Regions from separate parts of the Homo sapiens genome. Here region 2 is linked to region 1. Evidence: fine-mapped expression QTL. A gene starts in region 1. The other region holds a variant in brackets. All regions are shown on one strand. Distances are from middle to middle. Region 1 holds the start of PEX1 (peroxisomal biogenesis factor 1). Region 2 overlaps PEX1 (peroxisomal biogenesis factor 1).

Region 1 (2,500 bases):
ATGGAATCTATAAAGTAATAAACTTATTACATTGATAATTAGAAAGTAAAGTTGACCTATTCTGCTAATATGGGCTGAACAGAAACAGCAATTTGTTCCAGGGCTAAAGACATTTACATTTCAAAAAGATATGCATGAATTAATTCTTATAAGTACTTCCCGAAGGCTCAAAATTTAAAACAAAGATCAAGACCACTAAATTCTTAAACAGTGATGAATGTAAGGTAACAACTACATCTTAGGATCAAATTAGAGTTACTGTAAGAAAGCATTCCTACTATTAAGTGCAGATTTGAAAACATGTTGAAAAATCCCATCGAAGCTGACAGAGCACTGAACCAACTTCTACCTGGAACTTGGTGACAGTGACTGATTTGTCTCTAGCCATAAAGCCCATCAAAAACCAAAAGATTGTCTACTTAGTGGTAAAAAATAATAACGACGATGATAGGAGGATTCTGCTGAACTCATGTTTTCAGTGGACCAAAAATATCTTCCCCTAGGTATGGGGAAGTAACTCAAGTGGAAAGAAGGGATGCTTGAAATTATTGCAAACTCTATTCATTGCATAGATTAGCCACTGGTGGGTACCATGCATCCAGGATTTATGAGGATTTCAAATACGCCGTCCTTTTGCCCCCATAAGTACACTCAAACTCGTGAGACCATGTGCCTCTATTTTTAATTATGAAAATATGGACGCTGTATCTCCACCAGTGGTTAGAACTGTGAAACATCCTAACCACAACGTCCAGAAGGGCGACTGATCGCAGAGCTTCAAGTGATCTTAACTACGTTATGTGTTCCTAACACACTACAGCTGTGTTCCGCGTCAGCGACGCAGGGCAGAACCATCATTGTATTAACCTTTCCCGCTCATGGGACGCGGTGCTTAGTCCCCGGGAACCGACAGGGGCTCCGCCAACAACTCTGCGTCCCGCTCTCGCGGCCCGGACGGCAGCAGCGCAGGTTAACTGGAAATGGCTGGCAAGGAAAACACCTTTTAAAATAATAAAAACAAACCACTTCTCAGGAGCTTTTCCAGCCTGGAATAAGGAATATTTATAAAAACAGTGGTAGAATATTAGGACGTTTCTAGGTTCAGTTTCACCAAGTGAAAAGACCTGGGATAAGACGAGCCCAGGGCTGCACTGGACTTGTGGGATCCAGAGACTACCCAGAAGGGCCCTGCCGTCGAGGGACCCTGATCTCTGCGCGCTTCGGCGGCGCCCGGGTGGCAGCCGGTGTCCCGCCGCGTCCCTGAGAGGCTTCGGCCTCGTCCGACCCCAGGCTGAAGATCAGGTGGCTCGGGGCCGGCAGGTTACCTGCAGCAGATGCAGCTGGGCCACGAGACGCCGCGGCAGGTGGAGGAAGCAGTCGCGAGCGTTGGTGAAGGCCACAGTCACTGCCGCCCCGCCTCCCCCAGCACCCGCCAGGCGATCGCTGCCCCACATCGTCCCGGAGCGTCGCTCTGGGTTCGCCCACCCTAGCGCCGCAAAGGACCCGGGACCCGGCAGGCCGAGGACGTCGGAGCCGGAGGAGATCGATCGGCCCCGCCCCCTGCGGCCCCGCCCCCTCTCCCCGCTGCGCATCCTGCCGTAAGCCTGTAGTGGGTGGGACAAGAAAGCTTCTGTCACCCACCGCGCCTCTCCGCCGAGCCGCTCGGGGGCGGCACCTCGTTCATCAAATCTTCGCACGCAGGAAACGATGGCCGACGCTGTCGATTCTCCAGCCAATCCTGGCACTCCTTAACTCATCCCGCTCTCTTATTGGATAAAAGGGAGCTCAGTAGGGCGGATGTTGTCCTCCCTGCGAGGATCAAAGTAGGCAAGATGGCGTCGAGCGGCGGGGAGCTAGGGAGTTTATTTGATCACCACGTCCAGAGGGCGGTATGCGACACACGGGCCAAATATCGAGAGGGACGACGGCCTCGTGCTGTGAAGGTAAAGTGATTTTGGTTTCATTCGCTCTCCTCGGTAGCTTTATGTGAGTGCTAGCGCCATATGACCAGCCTACGGAAATAAAGGCACGACAAGGCTTCCGTCAGATCTGTCTCTCGTTAGAGCTGGCGTGAAGAACCCTCGGTCAGTTACCAAAGATTCTCACGACGCCTTTGGTCAAGTATTAGAACATCAACTCCACGAGAATAGGCCTTGGTTTTAGTCATTGGATCTTCTGTGTTTACAGTACTACTTGGCACAGGTAAGCACTCAGTGAATATTCGTTGAGTGATTGTTCCCAGTGACTTCTACCGACTCAATTTCTGGAAAAAAATGTCGACTGAAGGTAGTCTGTTATATGCCTTAGGTAGCCTCTCACATGGACTGTTATTCTTTATGCAGAAGGAATGGCAGAAATTTCATTTTGTGTTCTTTTGCTGACTGGGTTGAACAGATTATTTCTTGTTTTCAAAGTTCTCTTTAAAAAAAAATAGAGGCAGATTCGTCCTAGGCTTATTTGCGAAATACGTTTAATAACTCTGCATTTCTTTCAGGTATAT
Region 2 (3,027 bases), 21 kb before region 1:
GGGAAAACATAAGTGAGAGTAAGGGATCAAGATTCATTTAAAATCAAATGCAAATGCATCTGCCTAGAGATCCTGGAGTTGCTATATTTGAAACACAAATTTGGCTTCAAACTTCCTGGTGAGTTACAAAGTTTAAATTTACAAAGAACAGGAAATACACAAGTTCATGATTAGTTGGAACTATATGACAGCGGTACCCATGGGGGAAAAATTAACTGTTCAAAGTAAAATCTTCCCAATATTTTTTAATTGAATAGATAATAATGTAAATGTTAAGGACTTTAAAAGTACAAAAGTGTTATATGGTGAACTGTAATTCTCCTCATTGCTGTCCACAGCCTCCTACTTTCTCTCCCCTGAAGCAACCATTCTCCCAGTTTTCCATAGCAATTCAGAGATCATTTATACCAATTAGAGTATATTCTAAGTACTAATTTTTCAGAGTGGTGTCAGTGAGCACTTCCAGAAATGTAGTCTACAAAAAGTTCTGGCTAGAAAAAAAAATAGGCCTCCATTAAATATGGAGAGTTTTAGAAATTTTATCAAAAACATTAGAAAGCCAAAGAAATTTTAATGACTAAATGATAAACAGAAAAGTTAAAGACTAGATGATATGTGTATTTATTAGATTGACAGCATTATGTATAACATTCCTGTCTTTCTAATGAAAAAGGGATTTATATAGAGTGTTACCATACTCATACCTCGTAAAGCTTTACAGTCAACTCTCTCCACATGGGCATCCAGTTTGTCAAATGCTTCTTTACAGATTGCTTTGGCTAAAGTTGATTTTCCACTTCCCTAGAAAATAATTGCTTTATAGGAATTCCCAATATATTCAGTCACAGAAATAGTTCCTGTCATTGTGGCAACCACCAAGATTCAGCCTCAATTTTATACAACCTCTTCCAAAAAAACAAAAGAAGAGGAGAGAATACTTCCCATCTCATTTTATGAGGCCAGATTTACACGGATAGCAAAACCAGACAAAGACAACACAAAAACAGAAAACTGCAAACTAATCACTTTCAAACTTAAATGGACAAAAGCTCAACAGAACATTAGCAGATAAAACTCAGCAATGTAGAAAGAATGATACACCACAACTACGTGGTATTTATCACAGGTATGCAAGGCTGGTTCAACATTTGTAAGTTACTCAACCCTATCAACACCTAATAGCCTAAAAAAGAAAAACCATATAATTGTATCAACTGACACAGAAAAAGGGCATGGAGAACATCAGTCTTATTCGTCATCAC[TCCC/T]CCAACACCTAAAAGCAGACACACAGAAATATTAGTGAATAAATGAATGCTTTCCATATGTCGTATAAACCCTATATAATAGATGGTCAAAACCCACCCTATATAATAGATGGTCAAAACCCAAAGAAAGATAAATGAAAAGTTATTAAATGTTACAGAAAAATGAACACACCTTAACCACTTACCTTTCCTCCTGTGAGTAAAAGAGCTCCATTCCTAAGTCCTGCAACAAGAGACATCAGCTGCCGAGACAAAGGGCGTCCCAGGAGGCTGTGAGTGATGTGCTCCAAGGAGGATACGCCTAAGGAATTCACTCCTCTGTAAAAAATATACATAGTTACATGATAAAAGACTGAAGCAGGATAAAATTTAGCTATAAAAAAATGCTGAATTTTGCCTTCCCAGTGTAGTTAATTAATTTAATTTAATTTTTTATCTTTTTTTTTTTGAGAAAGGGGCTTGCTGTGTCATCCAGGCTGGAGCGCAGTGGTGTGAACCCAGCTCCCTGCAGCCTCAAACGCCCTGGCAAAGGTGATCCTCCTGCCTCAGCCTCCCGAGTAGCTGGGACTTCAGGAGTGTAACACCACACCCAGCTGATTGGGTTTTTTGTGTGTGCATTTGTTGTAGAGACGGGGTTTTGCCATGTTGCCCAGGCTAGTCTCCAACTCCTGGGCTCAAGTGATCCATCTGCCTCGGCCCCACAAAGTGCTGGGATTATAGACACAAGCCACCATGCTCAGACTAGTTAATAAATTTTAAAAGACTAAAATCTTAGAAATTGTCCCCTACTTGAGAGAAAGTATACTGATTAATGTCGAATCTGACTTCAAGCTTTTTTTTTTTTTTTTTTTTGAGACGGAGTCTTGCTCTGTCACCCAGGCTGGAGTGCAGTGGCATGATCTCGGCTCACTGCAACCTCTGCCTCCCAAGTTCGAGCAATTCTCCTGCCTTAGCCTCCCGAGTAGCTGGGATTACAGGTGCCCACCACCACACCTGGCTAATTTCTGTATTTTTAGTAGAGACAAGGTTTCACCATGTTGCTCAGGCTCGTCTCAAACTCCTGACCTCAAGTGATCCACCCGCCTTGGCCTCCCAAAGTGCTGGAATTACAGGTGTGAGCCACCGCGCCCAGCCTCCAAGCTTTTAAAATTAGTTTTATTACTTTTAAAATATGCAGTTACTAAAAGTTTTGCCCTAATAGAACTCCTTAAGGAATCTTAACACATAAAAAAACACCTCTAGCCCCCAAATGATTTAGTTTAGTAATCAACATAATCATAAATGGGTGCTTTTGAAGTACTGAGGATAACTAAAAACTTATTTTCTCTTAAACATTACCTATGAAATCCAGTATCAATCTGTAGATTATATTTTACAAACATGAACTTTAAACTACTTCTTGACTGTGACTGCCTGCCACTTTACATGATCACATGAGAGTCTGAAGAGATTTTACTTTATGCTGGGCACAGTGGTTCACGCCTGTAATCCCAGCACTTTGGGAGGCTGAGGCAGGCGGATCACTTGAGACCAGCCTGGCCAACATGGTGAAACCCCATCTCTACTAAAAATACAAAAAATTAGGCAGGTGTGGTGGTGCATGCTTGTAATCCCAGCTACTTAGGAGGCTGATGCGGAAGGATTGCTTGAACCCAGGAGGCGGAGGTTGCAATGAGCTGAGATTGCAACACTGCACTCCAGCCTGAGTGACAAAGTGAGAGTCCATCTCAAAAAAAAAAAAAGAGATTTTATTTTATATTAA

Evidence for each region. PIP is the estimated chance that this variant, and not a neighbour inherited with it, causes the effect.
Region 2: its variant is fine-mapped to the expression of PEX1 in whole blood (TOPMed, PIP 0.98).

The regions. Positions count from the first base shown.
Region 1 is chr7:92,526,982-92,529,481 of GRCh38, forward strand. PEX1 (peroxisomal biogenesis factor 1) reads right to left here and starts at 1,539. Exons shown (of 24, transcript NM_000466.3): 1 at 1,326-1,539. The coding sequence starts at 1,454. It overlaps RBM48 (RNA binding motif protein 48), which reads left to right and starts at 1,814. Exons shown (of 5, transcript NM_032120.4): 1 at 1,814-1,943; 2 at 2,495-2,500. The coding sequence starts at 1,833. RefSeq lists enhancers at 958-1,137, 1,738-2,117 and a silencer at 1,368-1,597.
Region 2 is chr7:92,505,544-92,508,570 of GRCh38, forward strand. It overlaps PEX1 (peroxisomal biogenesis factor 1), which reads right to left. Exons shown (of 24, transcript NM_000466.3): 10 at 1,451-1,583; 11 at 705-801. Among named protein-coding and RNA genes, the nearest start is that of PEX1, 21 kb to the right of the region's middle. The variant TCCC/T (reference allele first, on the strand shown) is at 1,263.